5 separate regions of the Homo sapiens genome follow, and all the other regions are linked to region 1. The links come from fine-mapping of genetic effects on gene expression. A gene starts in region 1. Each other region holds a variant in brackets. All regions are shown on one strand. Distances are from middle to middle.

Region 1 (6,325 bases):
GCAGCTTTCTGCTCCTCTTTGGTTTGATTTGCTTCACTGCACCTTGGGAAATGCTCCTTTGGCTCGCAGTCAGCACTTAGCCTTGGCTAAAGAAACGATTCATGAAAACGAATATCATACAGGATGTTTAGTTCCATTTGTGACCCTGATTATTATAAAACTGTGAGAGGAATGCCAAGCCCCAGCACATGTCCAGCAGTCTAGAACTCCCACTTTGCCACTTCAGTTTAGGCCTCAAGCTAAACCTCTCCGTTTCCTGATTACATCCAGAGGGATGCCTCAGCTTTCACGAACAAGGCTGGAACAATATTATTGTCATTAGGGTCAGCCTTGGCCTGATAAGAGTCCTGCCATCAACACCCAACATCAGCTCACAAGAAATTCGTATGAAGATTAAGAACAGAGAAGAGTGGCTGGGCACAGTGACTCACGCCTGCAGTCCCAGCACTCTGGGAGGCCAAGGCGGGTGGATCACCTGAGGTCAGGAGTTCAAGACCACCCTGGCCAACATGATGAAACCCCATCTCTACTAAAAATACAAAAATTAGCCGGGTGTGGTTGCACATGCCTGTAATCCCAGCTACTTGGGAGGCTGAGGCAGGAGAATTGCTTGAGCCTGGGAGGTGGAAGCTGCAGTGAGCCGAGATCATGCCACTGCACTCCAGCCTGGCCTGGCAACAAAGCCAGACTCTGTCTCACCAAAAAAAAAAAAAAAAAAAAAGAACAGAGAAGAGCTGGTCTACCTTGAATTGGTTTTTCACCATTTGGGGTTGGAAGCCCCCAAACTTGTTTGATCAGTTCATATTGCCAAATGAATACTATAATAATGGGTTTATTCTCTCCCTGATTGTTTTGGAGTTGAGGGTGTTCAATGGCCACTGTTTGCTCAAGGAGAATGTAAACAGGACTTGCTGACGCCTGTGGCAAATGGGCATGCCTCCTAAGCCATTTCCAATCTGGCATGGGGTGTGGATCTAATGGGAAAGAAGCTGAACAGAGAAGGAGGGTGGGTAACTCTCTTTTGTGTTTCCAATGTATTTTCTATTTCAATACTCAAAGCAATCCTTTCTGAGGTAGGTGTTATTTTGATACCCATTCTACAAATCCAAAAACCACGTGGTAAGTAACAGGACTGAAACCCTGGTAGGTTGAGCTCCATAGCTTTCCACTACCTTAAGCTTACACTTTGTGGCAAGACCTTTTGCTTAGGCAAATATTGGTTATTCAAACAGGACCAAAGGCAAAATTCGTACACAAGTTCGAGTTCTCAAGTATCAATATTCTTCCCTTCCTCCAAACCAAGATAATAGAAGTGCTTAATTTCTGAAATGTCTCATATTTTCCATTGTTGACAAAGATCTCAACAAGAATTGGTAGTTAAACTGTATGATTCTTACCTTCCACTCAGGAAACTCCCTTGTTTGATTCTTAGGCAAGTGGGCTTTCTTGGTCTCATTATTTTGGTTGGTTAGACCACAGGCCATCAAGGCCAGTGAGCCAGTCACTGATAAGATCATACTGTTCCCTGCGATCTCTAAAACAGGTCATAATGCGGCTAGGTGGAAATGTAGATGGCCCAGGGCAGGTTGTCATTGGAGCTAATAAAGGTTATCAAAAGTCCCACTCACTGGGGTCACTTATGTCATATTCATGAATCTTCAAAATCAAGTATCTTTATTCACACAAAAATCCTCCCCCCCACACCTGACTTCTTTATGACCTGCTGTGCTGTAGACACAGAACATCTTTATAAGAATTTATCTCCATATGGGATGGAGTTGTTGCCAATCAGTTCACACTAACAATTTATAAAAAATATTCTGGGCTGGGCGCAGTGGCTCATTCTTATAATCCCAGCACTTTGGGAGGCCGAGGTGGGAAGTCGCTTGAGCCCAGGAGTTAGAGACTGGCCGGGGCAGTATATCGAAACCTCATTTCTATTTTAAAACATATATTTTTTAAAGTAAAGAAAATACATCTATATATATATTCTAACCTCTCAAAACCTTAGTCAAGCTTGATATTTGGGATTAAATTTACAGAGCTAGATGCTTGACTTTTTATGAAGTCCTTCACATTTCACAGAAATAACAGAACTTTTATTTTGCCTTCCCCAACGTAGTTCTTGTAAATATCTTATTGTTGCCTCTGCCATATGGTTTCTAAAAAAGTTGCTCAGAGCACAACCAAATATTGTTATTTCAATAACATAGAAATGACTTAGTTTTGTTGCTGCTAGTGCCCTTTTATGTTCCTCCAAGATGACTTTTCAAAAGCTATTTTTGGTTATAAGAGATTGACTACCTATTGTCTGAATTCTGCTTCCAACATATTGGAAATACCTTGAAAAAGACTTTGACATATGTTAAGTCAGAGAAGGAGACTAGAGGTTGGCAGAACACAAGATATTGAAGAACTCAAAATCTGCAAAAAGGTGAGTCGTGTACTGTCAGGTACACTAAACATAGTACGCTGCGGGGAGGCCAAGCTATAAGGAGGAGACACATTTTACAGTCTGCACTAACCGATGTTTAATAAACAAGGAACTAGAGAGCTGGAATCCTATCATCCCTCTCGCACATCTCCCACCTTCACACTCCGTTTTGTGTAGCCATGATAAAACCACTTCGCTCTGATACTTTTTTCTGGCCTTCCTAACTCCTTTCCTCTCCCACTACTCTTCTTTCCTCTTCCTATTTTGCTTCTCTGTGCATAATCTTTTCTTGTCAACCACTTTTAAGGTGAGTTCATCCTAACTGGAAAATAACTCGTCTGCCTCCCTCATTCTGAGTTCAGGTACCCAGGTAGCTCCCCTTCTTGGGGCTGGGACCTTTCTCGCTGAGCTCAGCATCCCAATCTGTGAGGATGATCTATCCGTGAGTCCTCCAATGTGCTGGCCTCCTCATGACGCCAGACTGGCTCCTCTTCCCTCCCCCCACGCCTCATCCCCAAAGAAATCTAAACTCCGTGGCGTCTGAAACTCTCTGCGCCTGGGTCCCCAAGGTCTCCGCCTGGATCCAAGACTTTTGTGACCAAAGCGGGATCGGGTAGGGGGGCGGCAGTACCTCTTTGCAGGCATGAAGCTCCGGTCCCGTTCCCTGGGTCACCTGGAAGGCGGTCCCAGCCCAGAGCAGCAGCCGCCACAGCCGGGGTATGCGCCTCTCAGTTCTTCCCCTGACTCTGGCGGAGAGATGGTGGCTGTGCCCAGGCTCAGCCATAGCGTTGTCCTGAGTGAGCGGCAGTAGCGGCTCAGGTGCTGCGGCTGCTGCTTCTGCTGGCAGAAGGCGGAAAAAAAGGGGAGGGAGGTACACAGGCGGAGGATGCAAGAGGCCAGGCTCGCTTCAGTCACCTCCCTGCGGCTACGCCAACACCGCCCATCCTTCCTCCTCCCTCTGTCCTCTCCTCCTACCCACGTCGCCTTGACAACCGCCTCCTCTCTGGCTCCGCGCGGGTGGGGCAGGGACCACGCGCGCCTCTGCAGCTCACCTGCGGGTCGCCATGGCAGCCGCCGCCGCTGGTGCGCGCGGCGTGGGCGCGGGAGAGCGCGCGCCCGGGGTGCGCAACCGGCCCAACAGGCAGGCCCGGGGCTCGTGTGAAGAACACAGTGGAAGCATCCTCCAAGCCAGCCAACAAATTTCCGTTTTCTACTGCCCTTTCGGGCCAGGGGTTATTTTATGAGCATCTCCGATGTTGCACACGTGGCGTGTGAACCGAGAGAAAGAAGATGGAGAGATCACCCTCCAGACGTCGTCGCCTGGAAGAGGCCCCAGTACGTGTTCCCTCCTACGAAGGCCACTCCTGGAGATCTTACATCCCGCCAAATCCATCCGTGCTTTTACAACCGGCTAGAAGAGAAGCCCTGACACTGTAGTTGATCCGAGTTTAAGCGAGGAGTTTGCCTTAGCCGCAATTTCCCAAGCGCCGCACGTGGGCCTCTCTCTCTCTCTCTCTCTCTCTCTCTCTCTCTCTCTCTCTCTCTCTCTCTTTCTCTCTCTCTCTCTCTCTCTCTGAGACAGGGTCTCACTCTCTCGCCCACACTGGAGTGCAGTGGCGCGATCTCGGCTAACTGCAACCTCCGCCTTCCGGGTTCAAGAGATTCTCCTGGATTAGCCTCCCGAGTAGCTGGGACTACGGGCGCGTGCCACCAAGCCCAGCTAATTTTTTTCCTACTTTTTGTAGAGACGGGGTTTCGCCATGTTGCCCAGACTGGTCTCGAACTCTTGGGCTTAAGCGATCCGCCCGCCTCCGCTTCCCAAAGTGCTGAGATTACAGGCGTGAACCACCGCGCCCGGCCCTCTTTGGTCTCTTGACATCCTCATTCTCTCATGGCTTTGAAAGCCTTTTGTTAGGTGCGAGGGAGAAGGAAATTTCTGGGTCATCTTTCAGGACTTCTTTCCTCAACTGAAGTCTTTTGCAGAAGTCCTGATGGTGAGCAGCCAGCACTTTTCCGCCGAGGCTCAGGAGTGCAATTCCAAGTCTCGGGCCCGCTCAGCGGAACGTTCCCTCTGCAGTCCCCGGAGCTTCCTCCCCAGGGGCCTCCCGTGGTCAGCCGCCAGGTGGCGCCCTCCTCTGAGGGAATTCCTCTGTCATAGATGGCTGGGCAGTTGCCTGGCAACCGAAACCAGCGCTCCAAACAATTGGGACCCGGGATCTTATGCCAGTGAGGCTGTGCTGCGGCTGAGCGGGCCTCCCATCCCTCTTAAAAGAGTTAGGCATTTAGCCATGCCTCCCACCCGGGACCCTTTCCAGCAGCCTACATTAGATAACGATGATTCCTACTTAGGAGAACTGCGGGCTTCCAAGGTACTGTGGTTTCTTGCGCAGATTCCCAGTAGGGTCGCCGGTAGTCTTCTTTCTGTCTGTGTGATGAGCAGAGATGGTAACATAAAGGACTCTGGTGAAGACACTCAGTCGGGTACCAGGGAAGTCTGTTTTCTGCCTGCCTCCCTATCTCCATATTCAAGTCGGCTAACGTTTCAGAGGCGTTTTTGAGCAGAGGAAAGTAGAGTTCTAGTCTAGAGGAACAAGGGGCTCTGGCAGCTCAAATCAATTGTGAGTATAAGTTATGGCAGTGCCCAGGTTCCTTCAAGCTACCCATTTCCCTATTTGGAAGACTGTTCTCTGAAGAGAAATGAGATATGGAGTGGGAGAGAATCCTCTGAAAGCCACCAGAGGTCATGCTTTACACATCTGTGTTCACACTGTCTCTGTCTTCTGGTTAACACCACAATATGTTTGTTATGTGTGTGTTTAGCATGATGGTGGACACTGATTTCGGAACTTAGATGATCTTTTTTCTGGTAGAAGTGATTGGGATATATGAAGTGGTGCACAATAAGATGAATTAAGTGGTGATTGTGGTCTAATAACAATATTGAGAGCCCCTTTTTATTTATTCAATACTTATTTACTATAAGCCAGACACTCTGCTAAACGCCAAGGATATATAAATAAATTAGATGTAGCTTCTGCTGTCAAGGAACTCTAGTAGTAAAGAGAGACCGACAATAGCAAAAATGCTTGCACAATAGCACATGTTGTGACAGAGTTGTGTGCAGGGTGCCGTGAGAACCAGGAACTTAAAGGAAAGCTTCACAGAGCAGATGCATTTTGATGTCCAAATATGAGTTAGGTAGGCCAGGTGAGGGAGTGGATAGAATGTGAGTTAGGAAGAAGGAAACAGGAACCAGATATGCAAGGCAAAGGAAGCAGCAGGTGCAAATACATGGAAAGGAGAGAGAGAATGGCTTATTTGGGGAACTGCAAATAGTCTAGAAGGGCTGGAGTGTAGGCGTGCAATGGAAGCACTCAGAAATCAGAGCTGGAGAGATGCCCTTGGTTGGCTGGGTGTGCTGTGTACACCATGCTAGCTAGCTATGGTTTCATCCTAGGGATGTGAGGAATCATTGTGGGATATTTTTTTTTTTTTGAGACAGGGTCTCCTTGCTCTGTCACCCCAGCTGGAGTGCACTGGTGCAATCTTGGCTTACTGCAGCCTCGAACTCCTGGGCTCAAGCAATTCTCCCACCTCAGCCTCCCAAGTAGCTGGGACTACAGGTGATGCCACCACACCCGGCTAATTCTTATTTTATTTTTTTGTAGAACCAGGATCTTCCTTTGTTGCCCAGGCTGGTCTCAAACTCCTAGCCTCAAGTGATCCTCCTGCTTTGGCCTCCCAAAGTGCTGAGATTACAGGCATGAGCCATGGGTCCCAGCCCCATAGCAGGATTTTAAGTACCACAGTGACACAATCAGATGGGTGTTTTAGGAAGCACAAGTGGCAGCAGACTGGATAGGATGAGAGTGAGACAAGAGGGATCAGCTA
Region 2 (6,325 bases), 50 kb before region 1:
CCATTTCCTCTCCATTGACAGAGAAATATCCTCTCCCTCCCTCCCCGGGATGTCGTGGGATGCCTTAAGATGCAGGCCCTGAAATAGTCCGTGCGGTGGAAACACAAGTTGTTATTAACCCACCCACATCCTGCCTCTCTGAGAGATAATGATTTCTGGACTCTCGGTGCAGTCCCCAGAGAGAGAAGAAATCCTTCCTTTACATGGGTAGGAATTGACTGAGCCATGTCTGCACCTTGTCCAGGGCCTAATGACATTCTCAGTTAGGACTCAAATGGGAGTTGGTTGTCTTAACCCACACATTCCCGCTCCTTCCAGCTTTAAAGCTCTCTAGCTTTATCTCTGCCTCCAGTATTGTCATGCTAATGAATCTGACACACCAAGTTGAACTCTAAAATAACATAACATTAAAATTGGACTACAGATTAAATAGCCACTGCTTGGCTTAGACAAGATTTAAGTATAGGAATGGGAAACATTGCTCCCGGTTTTTAGAAATCCAAGTGTAATACAATTCTTGAGTCCTTCTTATCCATTTGATTGTTTGGGTATAAGTGAAACTTTCACTTGCTTTCCTCCTGTATTCACTGTCCATATTTAATAAGGAACAATATGGCTGCCTTTCACATCCTCATATCCCCCCACTTTCGCTCCCTAGGACCCAGTGTTGCCTTGCCCATAATAAATGTTATTTGAATGTGGCATTATGGAGCAGTGGAAGCTTGGGTTCGAATTTCAATCTCGCCGGCTGTAAACCGGATAACAAAGAGCAGGTCATAACCTTGCTGAGCTTCCAGTTCCTCGTCTCTGTAATAGAAATAGTAATGCCTATTTCACAAGGTTCTTGTGAGAATTAGAGAAAATAATATATGTAAAGCATCCAGAATAGTGCCTGGCCTACAAAAGACATATCTGAAATAGATATCCAGTTCTCCAAGCACCCTGGACTGAGCTTTCCAAGAAAATTTGCTAGTCATTGGGGTCTCACAGCATTTGGAAGATTTCAGCCAGCACTGGGCAAAGGCTAGGCAGAATCAGTTTCAGAAGTTAGCAGCCAAGGTGGCCCATGCCTGTAATCCCAGCACTTTGGGAGGCTGAGGCAGGTGGATCACCTGAGGTCAGGAGTTTGAGACCAGCCTGGCCAACATGGTGAAACCCCATCTCTACTAAAAAAATACAAAAAAATTAGCTGGGTGCGGTGGCTCACGCTGTAATCCCAGCACTTTGGGAGGCCGAGGCAGGTGGATCACGAGGTCAGGAGATCGAGACCATCCTGGCTAACACGGTGAAACCCCATCTCTACTAAAAATACAAAAAATTAGCTGGGCGTGGTGGCGGGTGCCTGCAGTCCCAGCTACTCGGGAGGCTGAGGCAGGAGAATGGCGTCAACCCGGGAGGCAGAGCTTGCAGTGAGCGGAGAGGGCACCACTGCATTCCAGCCTGGGTGACAGAGCGAGACTCCATCTCAAAAAAAAGAAAAAAAAAAAATTAGCCGGGCATTGTGGCACACACACCTGTAACCCAGCTACTCAGGAGGCTGAGGGAGGAGAAACACTTGAACCTGGGAGCTGGGGCTTGTGGCGAGCCAAGATGGCACCACTGCACTCCAGCCTGGGCGACAGAGTGAGACTCTGTCTCAAAAAAAAAAAAAAGAAGAAGAAGAAGAAGTTAGCACCCAAGCCGGGAAGATACCCAAGCTTTGCATATTGTGTTCCAGTCAAGCTGAGAAAGTATATTGGCTGATCTGAAATTCCGTGGTGGAAATCCGGTTGGTTTTTTTGGTTTTTGTTTTTGTTTTTCTTTTTTTTTTTTTTTTAAGACGGAGTTTCACTCTTGTTGCCCAGGCTGGAGTGCAATGGTGCGATCTCAGCTCACTGCAACTTCCGCTTCCCAGTTCAAGCGATTCTCCTGCCTCAGCCTCCCGAGTCGCTGAGATCACAGGTATGCACCACCAGGCCTGGCTAATTTTTTGTATTTTTAGTAGAGACGGGGTTTCACCATGGCCAGGTTGGTCTTGAACTCCTGACCTCAAGTGATCCACCCGCCTCGGCCTCCCAGAGTGCTGGGATTACAGGCGTGAGCCACCGCGCCCTGCCGGTTTTTGTTTTTCAATGAGACAGGGTCTTGCTCTGTTATCCAGGGGTACAGTGGTGCGGTCATAGCTCAGTCTAACCTTGAACTCCTAGGCTCAAGTTATCCTCTTGCCTCAGCCTCTCGAGTAGCTGGGACTACGGACATGCACCACCACACCTGGCAAATTTTTTAACTTTTTGTAGAGACAGGGGTCTCGCTATGTTTCCCAGGCTGGTCTCAAACTCTTGGCCTCAGGCAATCCTCCCACATTAGCCTCTCAAAGTGCTGGGATTACAGGGGTGAGTCACTGTGCCCAGCTCCAATTGGGTTTTGTTTTAAATAGACTGGGCCATTTAACCCTTGCCCCCCTTGTCCACTCTCTTATTTCCTCATGTTTTTTACCTCCCACAAATGCCTGTCCATCACTGGTAAGTTTAGGCCAGTAAGAGTGGGCCAGGCAGAGTCACATCCACTGGTCTTGCGGGCACAGCTGCAGGCCTCACCCTGGCAGCCTGGCTTCCTCTTCCCTCCATCCTCCCTGCCCAGCCTGAGGGGCAGCGGAGGAGGCTGTCCAGTGTGCCCTGTAGCCCCTTACCCAGTGGGCTGGGGGTGGGGTGGGGGTGTGTGCAGACTCACGAAGTACAGTTCCCGGTGGACTCAGCAGCACTGTCATCCAGCTCCATGTTGGCTGAGAGGCTGGCAAAGCCATGGGGCAGCTCATCCCACTCATCAAACCGAATGCCTGTGCCGAGGGAGTAGCGGCCCTCAGCGCATGGCTTACATGACTGGTCCTTCATATCCAGAAACTCCCCGGCGTTGCAGGAGAAGGCTGGAAAACAGGGCAGAGACAAGGTGGGGCAGTGAGGTCACTGCAGCCCCAGAAGTGAATGGGCTGCGAGCAGCTGAAGGGAGGAGCGCTGGGTTGGGGTCTAGGAGTTTGGCCCACTAAGATTTAGGGCCATGGCATTTACTGTGTGATTTGATTTTATTTTTCTTAAAAAAATTTTTTTTTCAGCAGTGATATTCCTTGCTATGTGTCATTCTATTTGTATGGAACGGCCAAAAGAGGTGAAGCCATAGAGACAGAAAGTAGATTTGTGGTTGCCAGGGGCTGTGGGGAGGGGCCTGGGGAGAGATTGCTAATAATATGAGGTTTCTTTTTAGGATGATTAAAATGTGAAATGAGAGTGATGATGGTTGCTGTGAATATTCTAAAAACCACTGAATTTTATCCTTAAAGGAATGAATTTCATGGCATATAAATTATATACCAATAAAGCTGTTATAAAAAAAATAGATCTAGGGCCACGGATGCTCTGCCTTGCTGTGGGACTTTGGGCTTGTTCCTGGCACTCGTTTCCTTTGGAGAGGTGCCCTGACCATTCTGAGAGCTCTCTGGTGAAGAAGATGCCAAGGTCTCTTGTGCTGACCCCTCTGAATGACACATGGCCCTTCAGCCTTGAATTTCTCCCTTGAGCCTCTGGCCTCTGCCTTTCTGGTTGTACTGCCACCATGCTAGGTGGAATTCTCATGACCTGTTAACTCAATCATTGCAA[T/C]ATCCTCCTAACTAGTTCCCTATTCTTATTTTTGCTCATTCTGTGGTCAGAGGTACCTTTCTAAAACAGATGTGATCAGGCACAGTGGCTCATACCTGTAAACCCAACACTTTGAGAGACCAAGGCAGGAGGATCACTTGAGCCCAGGAGTTTGAGGCCAACCTGGGCAACACAGTGAGACCCTGTCACTACCAAAAAAAAAAATGTTTAAATTAGCTGGGAGTGGTCGCGTGTGCCTGTAATCCTAGCTACTCAAAAGGCTGAGGTGGGAAAATTACTTGAGCCCAGGAGGTCGAGGCTACAGAGCTATGATTGCACCTCTGTACTTCAGCCTAGGAAACAGAGTGAGACCTTGTCTTTAAAAAAATAAAAAGTAAAACACGTATGTACTATTATTCTCCTTATTTTAAAAATAAACAGGCACTCCCTTTTGGTTCTAGAATTATGCTCTTGGCCTGGCATTCAAAGTTTTCCACGATTTCCCTGCAGCCTAACTTCCCAGCTTGACCTCCCACTACAAATCTTTTTTCACCTCAACTCCATCCATCACCTTCTCTGTGTTGCCTCTACCCTGGACCACAAGCTCTTCCTCAAATGTGTCACTCTTCATCCACGTCTAAACTTTTGCTCAAGTGGCCCTCCCAGCTATGCCTGATCCCTAAATATTCGTAACTCTCATTCTTTCTCATATCATATATGTCTGCCACCCACTAGGCTCTGCGCTCCTCTGGGGATGGCTGGCTCAGTGACTGGCACAGACTGGGAGCTTCATGAATGTTTCTGAAACAATGAGTGAATGAATGAATGTCTGCACTTTCCACCACCCTAAGCTTCTGAAAGCAGAGAGTGTGCCTTATTTGTCTTTGCAGTTCACACTGCATGTGCACATCATGGTGCTAACACATAGTGGGACTCACTGAAGTCAGCAGAGTTCAATGAAGATGGCTCATTTGTTTCCACTAGTCACACCTCAGTTCTGCTCAGGTCTCAGCAATATCCAGTCATTAATTTAACAAGTATTTATTTGCTCACTTACTCAACCAGGCACTGTACTAAGCTGATTTTAGAATTTAAATATCTTCAAACTCCTTTCCAACTCTTCAGATAATTCCTTAAATCTAGTGCCTGGTTTTTCTTGTTATTCCCTTTGCATTCCTAAAAGAATAATGCAGGGGAAACAGCTGCCAATTGTAGAAAAGTTGTGACTGCAGAGTCACAGAGGCGGGTGCTGGGGCTGCGGCAAGCCACTGCCTTTCCTATTGCACAATCAGACCCACAGTCAAGAAGATTCTTGTCTCCTGAAGTGATGCCTGGAGCATTTTAAAGGACGTCTCTGCAGAAACTTAGCCTCTCTGACTTCCTTTTTAAGAATGAAAGCAAATCTCAATCTTGCCTAATGACTGATTGTGGCTGGTGAGTGAGTGTAGATTGGAGAGACATACAAGGCAAAAATGAAAATGTATGCAAACAGAAAAGAATATCTGAGTGCACACAGCTGGCATTGCTTATGCTGTATCCACTGATGGGATTTAAATTCCTTTAAAAAATGAAAGCAAATTCAGATATCCAGTTTGCATTCATGAAATACTTCTGCACCAAATCTCATAAGGGTCTGGGATGTGGGGACTAATTGGGGAAAAGATCTGATTCCTTAATGCAGCTGCTCTGCCAGGAAGGGCCCAGATTGGATGGCAGGAGACTTGGGGGAGAGACCAAAGCTGAGTGACAGGGAGGCCCTGAGCAGGATAGCTGCTTACAGCACTCGGTGCCCTTGATGGGGTCAGGCAGGCTGGTGCACAGGCCCGGGGTATGCGGCACGGCGACCCTCCACCTGGAACCCGTGCTGTCACACGCCGTGTACTCATAGTGGTACTCAGACTGCAGGGGAGAGAACAGTGGGCGAAATGTGCATTAGCAGTGATCAAACATTAACAGCTTCCCACCCACTTCCCAGCACCATGGCTACTGATGCTCATCCTCTCAGAAATGGGCCCTGGGACCCCGGGCAGGGAGCTGATGATTATGAACCGAGTACAAGAACTACAATGATTTGGATCATTCCCTTCCACCCAGCCATGGTCTAGTCCCTAGAAATCATTTTTGTGTGTGACTCTCTTTGTTGTTATGTTTAAGTAGTGTCCTTATGGAGCAGAGGAACGTGGGAAAGGTAACTAAGGAACAGGCTAGAAATAGGTGGAATTTTTCTTATTCCAAAGTGTAGAATTTATGAACGAGGACATTCTAAATGGAAGGATGTTCTAAATGGAAGCCTTAGTCCACAAAAAATTTACAAAGGCTCCTCACAGAAGTGGTATGTATTTCTATTTCCCTGTGTTTCTTTTTTTTTTTTTTTTTTTTTTTTGAGACGGAGTCTCGCTCTGTCGCCCAGGCTGGAGTGCAGTGGGATGATCTTGGCTCACCGTAACCTCCGCCTCCTGGGTTCAAGCGATTCTCCTGCCTCAGCCTCCCGAGTAGCTGGGACTACAGGCGAGTGCCACCACGCCAGGCTAATTTTTGTATTTTTAGTAGAGACGGGGTTTCACCATGTTAGCCATGCTGGTCTCAAACTCCTGACTTTGTGATCCACCTGCCTTGGCCTCCCAAAATGCTGGGATTACAGGCATGAGCCACCACGCCTGGCCCTATTTCCCTGTGTTTCTTATGCTCCTTTCCACTCAGAAAGACTATGAATTCCC
Region 3 (6,325 bases), 140 kb before region 1:
CAACCATTACACCCAAATGCCTGCTATGCCCCCAGGCAACACACTCACTTATAAACAGCTAAGCACTAAAACACACTTGCTGGTGTCTCATTCCACCCACACACCCTAAGCCCAGAAATACCATACACACCTGAATGCACATACACATGGGAATGAATTTTATTTAGCTAAAAAATGAAAGCTGGGGCCTGGAGAAGGAGGAAATGGCTTTACAGGGCAAGAAGGGATAGTCTTTTTTTTTTTTTTTTTAAGAGACAGACTCTCTGTCGCCTACACTGGAGAGCAGTGGCACGATCATAGCTCACTGTAGCCTCGAACTCCTGGGCTCAAGCGATCCTCCCACCTCAACCTCCCAAATAGCTGAGACCACAGGTGCTCACAACTATGCCTGGCTAATTTTTGTTTGTGTGTAGAGATGGGGTCTTGCTGTGTTGTCCAGGCTGGTCTCAAATTCCTGGCCTCAAGTGATCCTCCATCTCAGCCTTCTAGAGCACTGGGATTACAGGCATGAGCTACTGGCATATTCATATTTGTATTTATTACAATGCCTTACACATAGTAGGTGTTCAGAAAACACTGAGATGTGGATGACAATCTATTCAGTCTCCACAAAGAATAAACGGACTTTAAAACATAGCAGGGGGCCGGGCGCAGTGGCTCACGCCTGTAGTCCCAGAACTTTGGGAGGCTGAGGCGGGTGGATCACGAGGTCAGGAGTTCGAGATCAGACTGACCAACATGGTGAAACCCCGTCTCTACTAAAAATACAAAAATTAGTTGGGCGTGGTGGTGGGTGCCTGTAATCTCAGCTACTCAGGAGGTCCCAGATACTCAGGAGGCTGAGGCAGGAGAATTGCTTGAACCCAGGAGGCAGAGGTTGCAGTGAGCCGAGATCGCGCCATTGTACTCCAGCCTGGGTGACAGAGTGAGACTCTGTCCCAAACAAACAAACAAAACCACATAGCAGGGGGAGCCCAACTAGATATAAAAAGCAAATGCTTACCCTAGCAGTAACGGGGCAGGAGCCCATGTTTCTGGGGTGGGGTGGGAGTAGGCAAGGGACATGGGAACAAATTCTGCATCTGTGTTGTACCTACTTGCGGTGGCTGACTGTACCAGCGGTGGCTCAGCTGAAGCCGGGAAGGCTGAAAGCAGACCCCCATCTCAGCCATGTCCTCAGCCGACTGCCCACCTACCCTCCAGCCTCATCACTTGCTTATTCTCACTAGCTCTCACCAGCAAGCCTGCTTGTCATCACCCACTTCTGTTCCTCCTGCTCTCGTCTCAAAGCTGCTGCACAGGCTGTTCCTTCCCACCCAGACACCAGCCCACAGTCCTCTGAGTCTTCTAACCTGCCCTAGCTCACCTGCTCCAGGAAGCCTGCCCAGATTTATGTCATCAGGCTCTACTTTCCTCTCCGTTTCAGACTTCCCCGCACCAGGATGCTCAGCTGGCACAGAGCTCTTGTATACCTGGTATATCTGCCTAATGATTCCTTGACGGGATATTCCCTCCAGGCAGAAAGCAGCCCAAGACTCCACACACAGTGCCCATAACTGATTAAGAGAGGAGAGGGGGCAACCAAGGCCATGGAGCGGGAGAAACTTTGCCACCCCTCAGCCCTGGGAACAAACACTTCTCCCTGTGTCCCCCACCGCCATCGTCTTAGGCCCCGCCTGGGCCCCTCTCCCAGCATGTCTCTGTTGCTTCCCATCTGGTCCACCATCTGTGGCCACCTGCCCCCTCTGCTGTTGTCCCCCATCCCCAACAGTCAACCCACTGCTCTCTCCTTTCTATATCACCCTCCCCTGCCTTGACCTAGGTCACCCCTCAGGTGCAAAGGCAGGATGGGAACAGGGGTGGGGAGTACGTTGCCTGAGCTGTCTTCCTGGACAGAAAAGGAACAGCTGGGATGGCCTCTGACCCCAGGAAATGCCACCTGTGTCCCAAGCTTAGCCAGGCACACCTGGAAAAGTGCCAGGTCCCGGTCAGCCTCCCAGCCTCTCTTCCCCTGGCAGATGTGCCAGCGGAGACTGGAGGCCAAGAGGGCTCTGCTGTTCTGGGAGCTGCCCAGACCATGGACAGGAGCTGCTGCGTGTCTGAGCAGAGGAAGAAAGAGGCGAGGAGAATTCAGCCTCCAGGGGAGCCATCGGCCCAGGCTGGGGCAGCTGCAGCCATAGGGAAGAGAGTGGAGGCACAAACACGGAGACCAAACAGGGGAAGACAAAGCCTCAGGAGAGGAGCCAGCAATGGGCAAGTGGGAGAGCCGGAGAGCCGCAGGAGCAGGGAGAGGGCACCGGAGAGAGGCAGTGCTGCAGGGCTCCGCATGGGCAGGGGCGGGAAAGAAAGAAGAGACAAAGAACAAGAGGAGGAAAACAAAGGGGCAGTGGGAGTCAGCTCCCCCTCACCCCGGCCTCCCTGAACTTTGGGGTTGCCGTGGTGACTGCCTCCAAGGGTCAGGGCCGAAGGGAGAGGGTGGGGCCAGAGCTGCCGGGCCAGGAGGAGCCGTCCTGGATGTTGCCCCGAGCCTTCTCTAGACTAGGGAACCAAGGTCTAGGGCTCTGCCCTGGTGGGAGACCGAAGGCTTAATGGGGGCGCTTCTCTGCCAGTGCCTGGCCACGCTCACCAAAGGCAGGCTGGGTGTGGAGGACCAGAGGGAGAGGCCCTCCTTCCCACCTCCTTCCCACTTGTCTCAAGTGCCCAGGCACAGTTGAGGACACAGGAGCTCCAGCCTCCCTCTTCCGCCTCCTGGAGGGGAAACTGAAGTCTCAGGAGGCTCAGAACCTCAGCCACAGTCCCTGAAAAGCTCCTGCTTCCTGGTTCCTGTGGCTACTTTGAAGGGTGGGGCAGGGAGGCATCTGTCCAGCAAGGACCCTGAGTGAGGCCACGCCCTGACTCTGGCATACCCCTCCTTCCCCTTCAGGCCACACTCCCTGGGGTGGGAGTAGGGGCCTGCCAGCCTCTTCTTTTCCTCCCTTCCCTGATGGATTTGAAGGCTGCCTAGAGGGGATGTGACCTGATCCACCCCTGGGGTGCAGCTAACAGCATCCCCTCATGAGGGTCTCAGTTGTTCCCAGGCTTGGGGAAGGCACTCAGCAACTTGGGTGTGGTCTTCTCCCTGCTGCTACCTCTGGCTCCCCACAGCTGATAAAAAAAGACAGAATACTGTCACCAACCCCCTCCAACTCTCCTCCCCCAGCCCTGCTGTCCAGGGAGTCTGTAGGCTGAGTGCTTGGCCAAGCAGCAGGAATGCCCCAGCCTGGGTTCCGGCCAGGCTCCCACGCCCTGGGACTCTGTTCTCTCCTCAGATAAGGTGCCTTGGGGTCTCTGCCCTCAAAGCTCACCAGTCCACTGGC[C/T]TGTCCTGGTCCCTACACTCCATTCCTGGAGCTTGGGCTGGTCACAGCTAGCAGGAAAGGAAGGCCTGGCACCCTAAGAACAGCCCATGAGGTGGCAAGGGGGGCCCACGAGGCCTCAGCCTGCCCCCCAGCTTCATTGCAGCCCCTCCTCCAAGCCAGACCCGAACCACGGACTCTGAAAGTGGGGTCTGTTTGGACAGACAATGAGCTCTGGCCTCACTTCCTGTGGGAGCTCTGAAGGGGGAGCCAGGCCAGGCTCTTTCTGCCTGGAGGGAAAAGAATGCGCTAGACAAAGTCCCTGTCAGCCGATTCTGCAGCTCAGCCAGGAGGCAAAAGGGGCCAGAAGAGGACTACAGGGTCCTGACCCCTGGGTGGCGGCAGCCCTGTGCTCCCGTGGTCCCCAGCTCTGCCAAAGGCTGTGTGAGACTGCAGGAATATCTTGATGGGGGTGAAGGGGCCCTGGCCTCGCCTCCTCTCCTGCGCCACAGTCCTCTCTGCCCTTCCCCCAGCTCTCCTGGCCCCCCAGGCTTCCACGCGCCTTTTTTCACAATTCTTGGCAGCCATAGCCGGGGCAGCCTCACAACACTTCCCCGACCACGTCACAGGCTGGTAGACAGTGGGGGCAGCCAACCGAAGCAGCCCAGCCCAGCCCAGCAGAAGGTGGGGCCTGCACCAGCCGCCAGGGTTCCTGGGGCTTCTTCCCAAGCTGGCTCTTGCCCCTCCTGCTCTGTGCCAGGCACTGGGCAGGGAGGTGGATCTGTAGCTGCTTCCTGGATCGCACCCTACCTCCAGTGGCTGCCCAGACCATCCCCGCGAGCTACCCCCACCCCAGCGCCACCTGGGCCCTTCCTTACCTGACACCAGCACGCTCATGATGGCCTCCAGAGGCCGGTTGTTGTCCAGTGCGCGGCTTAGCTTCAGCTCACCCGTGGAGGCATTGAGCAGGACCAGGCTGAGTTCATTTCCCCGCTCAAAGCTGTAAGTCAGACTATCTGAGATATCAGGGTCATGGGCAGGTACTCGGCCAATGGCACCCCCAGGGAAGCTGCTTGAGCGATTGGTGACATAGTTGTTGAAAAGGATCTCAAAGTTGCCCAGCACTGGTGGGTTGTCATTGCGGTCAAGGAGGCGGACGTGGACTGTAGCCCGGCTCACCAGAGGAGCTGACGTGGCCTGGATGACCAGGACGTACTCAGGCCGGTCCTCGTAGTCTAAGTCTACCAGGGCTGTCAGCTCCCCGGAGAAGATGTCCAGCTGAAAGACCTCAGGGATGTTGCCCTCCACAATCTGGTACATAATCTGGGCATTGGTGCCTTCATCGGGGTCAGTGGCTGTGACCCGGGCCACGGCTAGCCCAATGGGGCTGTTCTCTTCCACAAACACATCAAACTCATCCTGCTCAAAGACAGGGGGATTGTCATTCACATCCAACACAGTGACTGTCACTTCCATAGGTGTGCGGGCTGGGGGCATCCCCTTGTCCACTGCATATGCCCGCAAGACATACTGGGCCACGTTCTCTCGATCCAGCCTCCGTAGCGTTCGCACGATGCCTGACGTGGACTCAACAATAAAGTCACCGTCTCCATCGTCGCCTCCTTGGAAGGTGTAGAAGACCCTGCCATTAAGTCCAGAATCACGATCAGTGGCTGAGATCTGCAGGACGCTAGTGAAGGGTGGCACATCCTCATAGACACTGCCCTGGTAGGAGTCTCGCAGGAACTGAGGGGCATTGTCATTCACGTCGTTCACCAGGATCTCCAGGTAGGTGGTGTCGGACTTCTGGGGAATGCCATTGTCCCGAGCAGTAATGGCCAGGGTGTAAGACACTTGGTCTTCATAGTCCAGCTCAGCCTGGGTGGTGACAGCCCCCGTGTCTGCATCGATGCGGAACTGGGGGATGCTGTCCTCCATGAAGTAGGTGATGCGGGCATTCTCACCTGTGTCCTCATCCGTGGCGCTGATCAGCACCACCGTGGTGCCTGCCGGCCGGTCCTCATTAACATTCACTGTATAGTGGGAGCTCTGAAAGACAGGACGATGGGTGTTGGCGTCGGTGACATTCACCACAATCTGTGCCGTGTCCTGCCGAGTGCCATCGGAGGCGGTAACAGCCAACACATACTGCCGCTCAAGTTTGTAGTCCAGTGGCAGGGCAAGGGATACCAGCCCACCACCACTTTGGCTGGTGATGGAGAAGCGGTTTCGAGTATTGCCACTGGTGATCTGGTAGGTGATGACACTATGAGCATCACGGTCCACAGCTGACACCGTCACCACGCTGGTGCCCACAGCTGCATCCTCATTGAGCCGCACTGTGTACTCTGGTTGGGTAAAGGTTGGATTGTTGTCGTTGACATCCAGGACAGTCACGCTGACACTGGCCGAGGCAGTGAGTGCTGGAGTGCCATGGTCTCGAGCTTCTACCCCAAAGCTGTAGAAATCAACTTCCTCCCGGTCCAGTTCAGCAGCCACAGAGATCCAGCCTGTGCCATTGTTGATGGTGAAGGGGAAGTCATGTCCCACCCCAGCAAGGCGGTATTCCAGGCGGGCATTGTCACCAGCATCAGCGTCGATAGCCTGGACATGGAGAACCAGGTAGCCTAAGGGGACACTCTCCAGGACAGTAGCCTGGAAAGGGGTGCTGACGAAGATGGGGGCATTGTCGTTGATATCCAGGACCTGTACTGTCACCAAGCCAGAGACATTAGAGAGTGGGGGACGGCCACCATCCTGTGCTCGCACCCGTAGGGTGTACTCCTTGGTCGTCTCATAGTCAAGAGGGCTCACCACATCCAGAGCTCCAGTCTGGGCATCCAGATAAAACTGTCCCCGAGCATTGCCACTCATGATGCTATAGTGCACCACGGCATTGCTCCCCTTGTCTCGATCCGAGGCTGTGACTCGGAGTACTGGGGCCCCTGGAGTCACATCCTCCCTCACCTGGACCACATAGCGCTTCTCACTAA
Region 4 (6,325 bases), 83 kb before region 1:
GCCACGTGGTACCATCCCTGTTCAGGAGTCAGGATAACCAAACCATGCACTGGATAAGTCACAGAGTCTGTAGCCAACTCCAGAGAAAAACCCCATTAATTTATACTTTCAGATATTCTCCCTGATCAATAATCCAACCCTGTCCATCCCCACACTCCAATACCGCAACATGTACTTTTGATTCTTTTTCCAAAAGTAGCAGGTCAAGACGGTGAGCAGGATGGCAGTACAGGTGCCTGCAGAGATGCCCACTTTCAGCCAGAAATCTATGGTTTTGCAGATGGTGACTCTCTGCTCAGGCAGAGAAATGCCACCAGAGCATAGCTTGGGTTCTCGCCACACGTAAGTAGTCTTCTGTTGGGGAGAAAAACAAGGAACTCAGATCTCCCATTCCCTTCTCTCATGGAAGTGCCCGATCAGAGGGAAACCCACCTGGATCCCAGCCACACAGCTGCTGACGATAGCATGGTAGTCAGCCACTGAGCAGAGCGGGCAAGCAGCCGCGCTCTCCCACAGGAAGTGGAAGTTGCAGCCATCACAGGTCCCATCCGAGCACGTTCTAGCAAAGCAGAAAAGAGACCTGAGCTCTCACTCGCTGGAGGGGTGGGGAAGATCTGGTTGGAAGCCTGTTGTCTCATAGCTTGCCTGATTTACCCTCTCCCTGCCCAAACCATTAGCCCTACCAGGATCCTTCCAACTAGTCCTTAACACAGGTTTTGATCTCTGATTTCACTGATAAGAGGCCTTCCTGGCCTCCAGTGGGCTCCCCACCCTCTGCCCGTTTATGTTTTTGCTGACATCTTATGAGAGCTATTGTAAGGTGTCTGAGCTCCAGCATGGCTGTCTCATCAACCCCTTTGAGGTTCCTGTCCTCCCCACAGACTTGTGACATTTTGCAATAGCCACTTTGATGCAGCTTCCTCGGGGTGGGATTGGAGTTGAGGTGGGGTTCAGGAATGAACTTCCGGTATGGATACCTGTTATGTACTTTACTGTGATGTTTACAATGGCAAGAACAGGGATTTGACACTCAGACACCACTACTGGGTCAAGACGCCCTGCTTTGCTCCCCATCTCCCCAGTCAGTTTAGGCGCAGCATATCCAAAACGTCTTCCTCAAGACGCTAGTGCCCGTCAAGATGTTAGCTGCTGTTATGCGGGGAGGGGAGGGGGTGTCCTGTGGTCATATTCATTTAGAAATTTTTGATTTAGTTCACTCAGCTATTAACCTCAGAACTGGGTATTTTCGTTGCAGAGAGATTCCTAGGATCCCTAAACCTTTACTAATCCTCATAATAGCCAGAGATCATGAAACGTCCTAAAGTCTCCTTGTCTCATTTAATCCTCAAAACAACCCGCTGAGGGAATTTAGCATTATGCCCATTTTTACAGATATGGAAAAAAGAGGCCTAAAGAAGGTAAGAAATGCATCCATGATAACATAGCTGGTTAGTGGAGGAGATGATTCAACCTGGCTCTCAGCCGAGCTGTTGGTTACCATGCTACGCAGCTGCTGCCTTAATGGACCAGGAATATGAGAATAGCTTTCACTCTTCCTTCTACCCCATTCTTGCCATATGAAGACTGAGGGTCTGGGGCCATGACTGTGCCCCTAAGCACCCATTAATGGATCTCAAACTCTTTTCTTTTTTGCTCTTTTTCAGTAATCTCTGGATCTCAGGATGGAATGACTTCAAGGGAGATTTTGGCCTTTGTTACATCCCTTTGCAGGGCTTACCCTGGCAGCAGCAAACTTCCAGGGACAGTTTTCTGTGGACTGCACCTGACGCGGATGGTGGTTGATCTCCCAGAACTGCAGGACTGGGTCACATCATTGGACCTGCAGAGAAAGCCAGCCCCCATGAGGGAATGAGTCACTCAGCTGTGTTATTGGACAGCCACCAAGAGAAATCCGCATGGAGCAATTCCCTTGCTGGGGAAGTCAGGACTTGGGCTTTAGCCTGGCACACAGGGAGTGCACAGGCCTTGGTTTATACGTGGAAAGGGTGGGGATCAACAATATGTAGTCAAGGGGGAAATGCCCTGGTTTAGGAAAGTCATGGCTAGCATACACTGGAGCCTGCTTAGGCTGGAAGGGAAGTCCACTGCAGATCATCCAATATTTCTCCTTGCCTCTAGGGCAGATCTGCTCCAGTAATATCCAGGAAGCTGGGATCAGGAACTCCCAGCCCTTAGCTATCATGACTGGGCAGATCTGCTAGACCTCAGACATGTTCTGGCTTGATAAGCAGTAGGTGGCTAGAGAGGGAGGGATGCAGCAGAAATTATGGAGGAGTCCTAGGTTTCACTTGCATTAGCCTAGCCTCTCATCTTCACCTATAAAAGAAGATCACGTCCGGTATTCCCAAGGACTCCAGGTGGAAAAGTTCAGCTGGGGAGGTGATTCCATCCAGAGTCATATCTGTTGTCACCCCTGCCAAATTAGAGCTCCTAATTAGTTCTCACTAGTAGCATTAGCTGGCAACCACTTCAATTCTTCCAATACCTGTCAACATCCAACCTCACTTCATCTCATCACATCCCTGAGTGGCTTATGAAAG[G/A]GTGAAACAAGGGTTTGTCAGAGTCCCTGGGAGCACTTTGCACACAGAGTGGAATAGAAAACACAGGTCAAGAGGTTGGGCCCCTCATGTGGGGCCTTTTACCTCCCAGACTGGTAACCTCACACTCTCTTACACATACACACACACACACACACACACACACTCTCAAACAAGGCTGAGGCAGCGGAGTTACTCACCAATAAGTCGATCAGCAAGGCTGACAGGCTGTGAGGAAACCCCGGCCTTGTAGCCTGTCACCTCTGGGGGGATGATGACTGCCTGGCAGACGTAGGCTGTGATAGATTTGGAGAACCCTGACTCACCCTCAGGAATCCGGAGGTCAGTGACATTGTCGGTGCACACAGACATTTTCCTACCCTGGTTGGGGAGTGGGGAGGAAGAAGTAGGAAGAAGTGAGTGGTCACAGAGGAATTCCCAGAAGGGAATAGGGAAGGCTTTTTTACATCTAAATTTTCAGCGTTTCAATGGTATGTTGTAGGGGAATGATTCATCCCAGGTCTAATGACGAGACAGATTTGATTTTTTTGTTTTGTTTTGTCTTTTTGAGACAGAGTCTTGATCTATTGCCCGGGCTGGAGTGCAATGGTGCAATCATAGCTCACTAAAGCCTTGAACTCCTGGGCTCAAGTGATCCTCCTGCCTCAGCCTCCTAAGTAGCTGGAACCGCAGGTTAATTTTTTTTTTTTTTTTTCGTAAAGATAGGGCCTCTCTGTGTTGTTCAGGCTGGTCTTGAACTCCTGGGCTCAAGCAATCTTCCTGCCTCAGTCTCCCAGAGTGTTGGGATTACAGGGGTGAGCCACTGTGCCCAGTCAACATTTTCAATGTTATAAATTTTATTATAAATGGTGCTGGCTGGGTGCAGTGACTCACACCTGTAATCCCAGCACTTCGGAAGGCCGAGGCAGGTGGATCATGAGGTCAAGAGATTGAGACCATCCTGGCCAACGTGGTGAAACCCCGTCTTTACTAAAAACACAAAAATTAGCTGGACGTGCTGGCGCATGCCTGTAGTCCCAGCTACTCGGGAGGCTGAGGCAGGAGAATCGCTTCAACCTGGGAGGCGGAGGTTGCAGTGAGCAGAGATCGTGCCACTGCACTCTAGCCTGGCAAAAGAGTGAGACTCCACCTCAAAAAAAAAAAAAGTGCTAAATCTGGTGTCTCAGCCTTTTTTTTTTTTTCTAGATTGTAGGAAGTAGATGAGCTTGAAAACTGAAGAAAACCTTTACATTACAATAAAATAGAGTTCTTTTGTCTTTGAACTAAGGATCTATCGTGTGGCAGTACATCATAAGCATTTCTAAACAGGAAAGGAGTAGATAAAAAAATACACCATTTCCCCAAATTCCCCACCTTCATTGCTCTCCATAATTCACTGAATGACACTTTTGCTACATGAAGCCTGCTTTAATCAGTCTTATTTCCTAAGTGATCATGACCTGTTACTTCTGAGGCTTCATTTTAACTTCTTCGAAGACTTCTGAAAACAAGATAGAGACACCTATCTCTAATCTTTCATAGATTAGTTTATTTCTTGACATGTTCTCTTTATAAACACCCATCGACTTCTTTGCATGCTGCAGAAGATGGGTCAGAGCTCTATGATGTAAAGGCCTTACCACCAACAGAGTCAAAGACTAGATGCTCAAGATGCTCTTTATATTGTCACTTTTTTTTTTAGATGGAGTCTTGCTGTGTTGTCCAGGCTGGAGTGCAGTGGCATGATCTTGGCTCACTGCAATCTCCGCCCCCTGGGTTCAAGTAATTCTCCTGCCTCAGCCTCCCGAGTAGCTGGGATTACAGATGTGTGCCACCATGCCGGGCTAATTTTTGTATTTTTAGTAGAAACAGGGTTTCACCATGTTGACCAGGCTGGTCTCGAACTCCAGACCTCAGGTGATCTGCCTGCCTTGGCCTCCAAATTGCTGGGATTACAGGCGTGAGCCACCATGCCCAGCCTCTTTTGTAACATTTGAAATGAACTTTCCAACTGCTAATTGTGGCTTGTTGCAATTTAATCAAGTGCAGTGGTGGGATTAACCTTTGCATTTCTGCCTTTGAATTTTGGATCTGAAATATTTGCAGCAGCATGAAATGGCTGATGGTGACAATCTTTCCTTATAAAGCATTTCATGTTACTTTCTTTCATACTGTCAGCAAAGAGACGTGTGGATGAACTAGAAACAGTTGATTTTATCCAGCCTCTAGAAAACAAGCGACAAATGCAGTGATTGCTGAAGACTGCTTTTTCAAGCAAGGGAAAAAAACCTTTCCTTCTGCATATTTCTGGGGTTTTTTTTGTTTGTTTTGTTTTTTGCTTTTTTGTTTTTTTTTTTTTTTGAGACGGAGTCTCACTCTGTCGCCCAGGCTGGAGTGTAGTGGCGTGATCTCCGCTCACTGCAAGCTCCGCCTGCCAGGTTTATGCCATTGTCCTGCCTCAGCCTCCTGAGTAGCTGGGACTACAGGTGCCCGCCACCACGCCCGGCTAATTTTTTTGTATTTTTAGTAGAGACAGGGTTTCACCGTGTTAGCCAGAATGGTCTCGATCTCCTGACCTCATGATCCACCCACCTAGGCCTCCCAAAGTGCTGGGTTTACAGGCGTGAGCCACCGCGCCTAGCCTTCCTCCTGCATATTTTTAAATAGACTCATTTTGAGGAAATAAAGGTCAGGTAAAAGAACACCTTATTTTATTTTATTTTATTGATTTTTTATTATTTTTCTGAGATGAAGTTTCACCTTTTTGCCCAGGCTGGAGTGCAATGGCGCAATCTCAGCTCACTGCAACCTCCACCTCTCAGGTTCAAGCGATTCTCCTGCCTCAGCCTCTCGAGTAGCTGGGATTACAGGCATGCACCACCACGCCCAGCTAATTTTTTTGTATTTTTAGTAGAGACGGGGTTTCTCCATATTGGTCAGGCTGGTCTCGAACTCCCCACCTCAGGTGATCCGCCCGTCTCGGCCTCCCAAAGTGCTGGGATTACAGGCGTGAGCCACCGCACCAGGCACCCGGCAAGAACACATTATTTTAAATATCTTTATTTTCTTAAGTGTTTATAATCCTGATTATTTAATTTTAGGGGAAAAAGTCCTCAGGGAGAATAATATGTAAAAACCTTTGAAGCTCCTCAACCCCCTGCTACCTGAAGGATTTCTGGTTTTCTCCTGTGTCTGTCTCTGGCTTCTGATCCATGGGCCTCCCCCATTCAATTTTCACCCTGTCAACTGGTATACCTTACCTGGTTTCCACAGAGACTGAGGGTAAAGTGATGGAAGTATTTCAGCCCTTTGGAAGTGAAGCTTGGCCCTCCAGCAAGAGTGACAGTGTTTGCCAAAGCGGAGAAGTTGTAGTTGAAAGTCCTGGTCGGAGTGTTGCGTGAGAAGGTGCAATCGTTGTAGCACAGAGAGTGGATCTGAGGGGGAGAGGGACGGGTCGGGCCAGCTGGTCAGGAAGGGCCTTGAGGGCCTGCAGCCAAGAGTAGCAGTTTTCTCCCCCGTCTGGTCCCGCCCAAATGGGGTCAAGAGGAGGAAGAAAGGATTAGGAGTGGCTAGTAAAAGAAGTGAAACAGGCACTAGTGGGATTTATGTACATTTGCCATTCAATTATTAGCACATATATGATGGACAAACCTAAATCTGTTATTGTTCAGAAGGGAGTTTGGACAAATTCTATAGCCTTATAACCCTGTGCCTAGATTATAGAAGCCTCTCAAGACACAAGAGGATCCTTTTTACTTTCCAGCAGA
Region 5 (6,325 bases), 71 kb before region 1:
GTGACAAGGAATAGCTCTAATGAAGACTTTATGACAGAGAATGTGGGACCAGTTGTCTTAGAGAAAGCTCCGATTCCACTGTAGAATCTTATTGCTACCAAGGTCACAGGAAAAGCAGCTGGTGAAAATCCCAGAACACAGAAAGGCACAAGGGTGGAGGTGGCTCAGATGTCCCCCGGGGACTGAGGGGGTGGCTGAGATGTCCCCACTTATTTTTTGAGTGGTACATTCTTTGCTCTTTTATTTATTGGGTAAATCCTAATGCATCTATGTGCCAGACCTGGTGTCTCAGAGATGAATGAAACATGGCCCCTGCATTGGGTACAGAAGTGGAGATGACCCGCAGGAGACCCCGGCTGAGTCAGGGGTGAAGGTGGGCAGCTCCATTCTTCCCATGTGGCCCTCAGATCGAGTCACAGACAAAAACGTGCCCTTATAGGTTGAACTGAGGGGTTGATGAACATGATCTGTGCAGATACCATACATATGAAAAGAAGGATGAATAAGGCCTCTGTCCATATTTTTCAAGATAAGAAACAAGTCCTTAAGGAGGGACACAGACTGCCTTAACTGATGGGGAGCCCTGGGCTCCTCCTTCCCCTGCTCAGCTCGGCCCTCTTCCCTGCGGAGGGCTGCGACAGCCAGAGCCCCAGGCTTGAACCTCACCTGCCTCCTGTGAGTCTCAGGGAGAGGAGAGTCCTAGGAGCTGGCAAACTGTCTCGGGCCAGCTCTTGGAGCAGCACATTCACTGACCCCAATGGATGGGCCATCCTGGTCCCTGAGAAACAACTGAGGCACAGCCAAGGTCAGAAATGTAATCATAGGAGCCAGCTCGAGGTGTGTCCCTTGATTTTAAAATACTGTTCAGAAGACAAACTCAATCACCAGACTGAGCAGAACCAGTGCGGGAATGAGGCACAAAGCAGAAGTCTGCAAGGAACAGCTGGGGAATGCATGTTCATGCGCACTCCTGAAAGCACACGCTTCAGTGCTCCTCCTCTGAGCTGGGCCTTGGCTGTGCTGCAAGGCGGGAACACAGGCTTTGGTCTGACCCAGCATCTAAAGGCCCCGGCAGTGGTCAGGCCAAGGCAGACACCCGGGCTTTCAGGCAGCAAGCACGGTACTGACCCAGAAGGCCTTGGCGTGAGCCCAGGGAGGGAAGAGAATGGGGCAGAAGGGAGGAAAGACAGCCACATTCAGTCACATGTTATGAACAGGAGGGAGAAGAGCAGCAGGATTAATTGTCTGCCTTTTATTAGTGAGTTGGCTGAGACCAAGAAAATGAAAATAAATGTTCACAAGGTCATACAGAATACCAGACACCACAGAACTGAGTCTAAGGTGCAACTGACAAGACACAGCCATTCTCTCTTGGCTGCTGGAGAAGGGGATGATGCCCCAAATACGTGGGGGAGGTGGTGTTGGTAAGAGATGACTGTGCAAAATATTCATTGTTAAGGACCAGACTTTAACCCATGCTTAGTTAGGAAAGGGAGAATTCAGTCAGCCGCCCAGCCAGCAAATGTTTATGCTCCCTAAGAGCCAAGCATCATGCTTAGTGCTGAGTGCAGAATGCCCAACTCCTAGTTCTATCCTCTTGAGAATCTCTAGCTTAGGGATACAGACAGCTCAGCCAGATCCTTCTCCGTGCACCTCAAGCCCTTCCCTGCTCACTTACACTGTTTCTCCACCCACCTGGCCCAGCTGCCGCCTCCTCTCCTGCTGTGTCTGCTGCCTGGAAAGCTCCACGGCTCCTCCCTCATCTCCTTCAGGTCTCTGCTCAAATGTCACCTCCTGAGAGGACATCCCTACCCTTCTAAAATAGTGGCACCACCCTCCTTCATTCTCTCTCTCCTAATCCTGGTTTTTTTTTTTCCTTCCTACCACTTACTACCATTTGCTATATTATATACCCATTTGTTGTCTATTATCTCTCTCTCCACTCCCTCCCCAACAAGAGTTAAGCTCCATAAGGGCTAGATGTTCCCTCAGTTTTGTTAAGTGATGCATGCCTAGCACCTAGCACCGTGCCTGGCACAGAGTCGCTCCTCGATAAATATTTGTTGACTGTTGAACAAATGGCCTCCTCTGAGAGGCTTTCTCTGCTGCCCCCACCCCAAGTCCTGGTCGCTTCTCTTCTGGGCTCCCCCAGTTCCCTGCACATCCCTCTGGTTGCCTTGACTGGGCCCGTTTTTCTCCTCTCTCCAGCCTCTCATACAGGACTGTGAGCTCCCTGGGGGCAGGAGCTTGTTTCAGTCGTCTCTGACTCCCCAGCCTATAGTGCCAGGCCTGACATATCAGTCAGCCTCAAAAAATGCTTGTTGACTCAGTGACAGTGTAGACTAGGAGGGAAAGTTCTTTTCTGAAGCAGAAAGCCTGGAGGAAAGAGAAGCAGCAGAAACGGAACAAGTCAGACCATAGGCAGGAATCCATTCCCCGTGCCAGCCCACAAAACAGTGCCGAGGGGGTGAGCCTGAAGAGCCCCGGGAGGACATTGTGTACGGACAGGCAGGCTCTGCCGGAGTGGCTCGGCAAATAGAAGAAACCAAGCAAGAGAGAATGAAGTGGGTTTTTGAAACAGAACATATGTGCATAAACAGTGAAACAAACGCTGCAAAAACAGTTTCTGACCGGAAAATGAATGAAGAGGTCTCGTTTTGCCCCCCACCCCACCTAGCCCTAGGGTCACCTCAAAGGTCTGTGGGGTTTTAACTAGTGCCAATGTCATTGACTGCTGAAGTTCCAAATGGTGGCAAACCTCAGGGAGTGGGAGACAGTCCATCTGGGGCTAAGGGGCTCCAAGACTGTACTACCCACCTCTCCGTTGGCATCGCAGGCCGTGTGTGTGTAGAAATAATCTTTGTCTGTGCAAGCTGGGCGCACGTTACAGGAAGAAGATCCTTTCTCTAAATTGCCAA[AG/G]CAAGAAGAAATATTTGGAGTTACATAAGAAAGCTGAGCTCCTGGCCTCTTCATGGCCCTGTGACTCCCAAGTCCCTGGGTGCATTGCCACACAAATATTGCCGGAAGTAGAAAATCCTGCACACTCACCCTTCCCCTTGTCTCAATAGTGTCATTTCCAGTTCCCCAACCCTGCTCAAGCTTCCCTTTGCACCTGTTCCAGGTGCTGATGAGAAACCACTGTTTGCCGCTTCCCGTCCCCCGCCCCATGGGGCAAGGGAGGGAGAAGTGGCCTGGCCAAAGGACCAGCAAGGAGGGTAGACGGAAACAGCTTCTTGCAGGTTAACCACTGCCAACCTAAGTTCCCTGAAACCTGGGGAGGTTCAGAGAGTTCACCATCTTCCAGGTGCCTTAGTGTCTTGACTCTGGGTGTGGTTTTTCTACTCCTGAAGTGTTGAAGTAAAACATGATTTTGCTTTCATACTCATTCCAAGCCTTTCTATGAATGTTCTAATATATGCCTAGAATGAAGGCCTTCCACCTTGGAAATTTCCTTTTCTTCATGCAATCATTCTACACAAACCAGGTTTGTAATTTCCTTGGACTCCACCTAACACATAAGGTTCTTCCCACTTGCCTCAACCCAAGCATCCCAACACTATCTTTATTATTATTATTATTGAGATGGAGTTTCACTCTTGTTGCCCAGGCTGGAGTGCAGTGGCACGATCTTGGCTCACTGCAACCTCCGCCTCCCAGGTTCAAGTGATTCTCCTGCCTCAGCTTCTTGAGTAGCTGGAATTACAGGCATGAGTCACCATGCCTGGCTAATTTTGTATTTTTAGTAGAGACGGAGTTTCTCCATGTTGGTCAGGCTGGTCTCGAACTCCTGACTTCAGGTGATCTGCCCTCCTCGGCCTCCCAAAGCGCTGGAATTACAGGGGTGAGCCACCGTGCCCGGCCTCTTTATTATTATTTTATTATTGTTATTTTTTAGAGACAGAGTCTTGTTCTGTTGCTGAGGCTGGACTGCAGTGGTACAATCTTAACTCACTGCAGCCTGGAACTCCTGGGCTCAAGCGATCCTCCCGCCTCCCGCACCAGCCCAACACTATCTTTAACTCTTGATTTATACCTAATGAAAAATGTTAACTGCTGGGCATGGTGGTTCATGCCTGTAATCCCAGCACTTTAGGATCTCTTGAGCCCAGGAGTTCAAGACCAGCCTGGGCAACATAGCAAACCCTGTCTCTACAAAAAATACAAAAATTAGCCGGGCGTGGTGGTGCAGGCCTATAGTCCCAGCTACTTGATGTTGAGGCAGGAGAATCACTTGAGTCCAGGAGGTTGAGGCTGCAGAGAGCCATGATCATGCCATTGCATTCTAGCCTGGGCAATGGAGAGAGACTCTGTTAGGAAGGAAGGAAGGAAGGAGGGAAGGATGGAAGGAAGGAAGGAAGGAAGGAAGGAAGGAAGGAAGGAAGGAAGGAAGGAAGGAAGGAAAAGAAAGAAAGAAGAAAAACGTGAACTATCAGTTTTCTTCTGCTCTCTGCATGTTCTCCTCCTTTCAATGTTAGCTCTGCTTTAACCCTGTGAACCTCTGGATAGTGAGAACTACTTCTATGAATTCATTTTTTAATTTTATTTTTTTCATTATTTCATCATAGGGTTTGTTTTCTTTTCTCTCTCTCTCTCTTTTTTTTGTTTTTTTTTTTTTTTTTTTTGGTAGAGACAGAGTCTCGCTATGTTGCCCAAGCTGGTCTTGAGCTCCTGGCTTCAGGCAATCCTCCCACCTCAGCCACCCACCCAAAGTGCTGGGATTACAGGCATGAGCCATTGTGCTTGACTCTCTCTTTAAAGCAGTGGGTTTAACTTTTTTTGATTTTAAAAACTCTTTTGAAAATTTGAAAAAAAGAGATGTTTCTCTCTACCTAGAAAAATATGCGTAATTCATACAAATAAAAACTTTTTGAAAGTTTTCTAGGGAATTTACTTCCTCCAGAATAAAAACAACTGCTTTATGAGGTGCACATTACAATACTGTTACTACTGCCACCACTACTTCGAATATGACTGCTGTGTCACCTGCAGATAAGCACTGAATAATGGTAAGAACTTCTCTCTCTTTATATTACCTGGCAAGCAGTATGGTGTAGTGGAATGAGATTTTTTTTTTTTTTTTTTTTGAGATGGAGTCTTGCTCTGTTGCCCAGGCTGGAGTGCAGTGGCACGATCTCGGCTCACTGCAAGCTCCGCCTCCCGGGTTCACGCCATTCTCCTGCCTCAGCCTTCCAAGTAGCTGGGACTACAGGCGCCCGCCACCATGCCTGGCTAATTTTTTGTATTTTTAGTAGAGACAGGGTTTCACCGTGTTAGCCAGGATGGTCTCGATCTGCTGACCTCGTGATCCGCCTGCCTTGGCCTCCCAAAGTGCTGGGATTACAGGTGTGAGCCACCGCTCCCGGCCTGGAATGAGATTTTAAGCTAGACGGATATGGGTTTGGATCCTGCTTCATCATTTAGCAGCTGTGTCACTTTAGGCAAGTTACTTAACCTCTCTGAGCCTCAGCCTTCTCATCTGTAGAACAGGAATAATAATATATACCTTGCTGGAGCCAGTACCTACCTGGCACATTGTAAGTAGATACTCACTAGATAGCAGTAACTATTATTACCTGCATGTTTGGGAATTATTATTATTATTATTATTATTATTATTTTTTGAGACAGAGTCTCGCTCTGTTGCCCAGGTTGGAGTGCAGTGGTGCCACCTCAGCTCACTGCAACCTCCGCCTCTCGGGTTCAAGTGATTCTCCTGCCTCAGCCTCCTGAGTAGCTGGGATTACAGGTGTGCACCACCACATCCAGCTAATTTTTGTATTTTTAGTAGAGATGGGATTTCACCATGTTGGTCAGCCTGGTTTCAAACTCCTGACCTCGTGATCTGCCTGCCTTAGCGTCCCAAAGTGCTAGGATTATGGGTGTGAGCCACCATGCCCAGCCGGGAATTATTTTTATTTGGGAGTAGTCACAGGAGAGTGAATAAGGATTAAAGGTCTCTTTACCTCCCTTTCAGTTAAGGGCTTATTTCTCAACTGATTCCTTCTTTTTCTCCAGGCACCACATGGGTTCGTAGATCAGATAATCTCCTAATTGCAGTCTTGTTGGCCTGAGCTGGAAAGTTCTCTCAACTGCACATCTCCATACCTCTTCTGTCTCTGTCTTATTAGGCTGGACAGGTGGGAACTACTGGCTGAGAAACAGTTGGGGTCTTCTCAGCTCATTTACTTGGTTACCAAGCAGGAGGCCCAATTCAGCACAGAGGGACCCATGGACTCCTGCTTTTGACTGACTTGGCCAGGAAAAATGTGGGGAGAGAGGCTGAAAACGTGGGAAGGTGCCAATTCTTAGGTCTAGCAAAGTACAA

Direction of the effects. Positions count from the first base shown, and alleles are read on the strand shown. Sizes are in standard deviations (SD) of each study's normalised expression. Not every link is listed here.
In carriers of allele C in region 2, the expression in whole blood of the gene that starts at base 3,287 in region 1 tends to be higher than with T alone (large effect, 0.76 SD a copy in GTEx).

The links. PIP is the estimated chance that this variant, and not a neighbour inherited with it, causes the effect.
Region 2: its variant is fine-mapped to the expression of ELAPOR1 in whole blood (TOPMed, PIP above 0.99).
Region 3: its variant is fine-mapped to the expression of ELAPOR1 in visceral fat (GTEx, PIP 0.95).
Region 4: its variant is fine-mapped to the expression of ELAPOR1 in whole blood (GTEx, PIP 0.96).
Region 5: its variant is fine-mapped to the expression of ELAPOR1 in whole blood (TOPMed, PIP above 0.99).

The regions. Positions count from the first base shown.
Region 1 is chr1:109,111,077-109,117,401 of GRCh38, reverse strand. ELAPOR1 (endosome-lysosome associated apoptosis and autophagy regulator 1) reads right to left here and starts at 3,287. Exons shown (of 22, transcript NM_020775.5): 1 at 3,066-3,287. The coding sequence starts at 3,218. CFAP276 (cilia and flagella associated protein 276) reads left to right here and starts at 4,655. Exons shown (of 5, transcript NM_001245025.3): 1 at 4,655-4,803. The coding sequence starts at 4,723. RefSeq lists a silencer at 3,466-3,535.
Region 2 is chr1:109,161,076-109,167,400 of GRCh38, reverse strand. ELAPOR1 (endosome-lysosome associated apoptosis and autophagy regulator 1) reads right to left here. Exons shown (of 22, transcript NM_020775.5): 2 at 5,387-5,507; 3 at 2,710-2,902. Among named protein-coding and RNA genes, the nearest start is that of SARS1, 50 kb to the left of the region's middle. The variant T/C (reference allele first, on the strand shown) is at 3,630.
Region 3 is chr1:109,251,275-109,257,599 of GRCh38, reverse strand. CELSR2 (cadherin EGF LAG seven-pass G-type receptor 2) reads right to left here. Exons shown (of 34, transcript NM_001408.3): 1 at 4,211-6,325. Among named protein-coding and RNA genes, the nearest start is that of CELSR2, 4.9 kb to the right of the region's middle. RefSeq lists enhancers at 1,372-4,526, 3,787-4,561. The variant C/T (reference allele first, on the strand shown) is at 3,357.
Region 4 is chr1:109,194,088-109,200,412 of GRCh38, reverse strand. It overlaps ELAPOR1 (endosome-lysosome associated apoptosis and autophagy regulator 1), which reads right to left. Exons shown (of 22, transcript NM_020775.5): 15 at 5,819-5,992; 16 at 2,759-2,939; 17 at 2,338-2,434; 18 at 1,739-1,840; 19 at 433-559; 20 at 176-354. Among named protein-coding and RNA genes, the nearest start is that of SARS1, 17 kb to the left of the region's middle. RefSeq lists enhancers at 1,877-3,076, 6,289-6,325. The variant G/A (reference allele first, on the strand shown) is at 2,562.
Region 5 is chr1:109,181,626-109,187,950 of GRCh38, reverse strand. ELAPOR1 (endosome-lysosome associated apoptosis and autophagy regulator 1) reads right to left here. Exons shown (of 22, transcript NM_020775.5): 8 at 2,818-2,906. Among named protein-coding and RNA genes, the nearest start is that of SARS1, 29 kb to the left of the region's middle. The variant AG/G (reference allele first, on the strand shown) is at 2,919.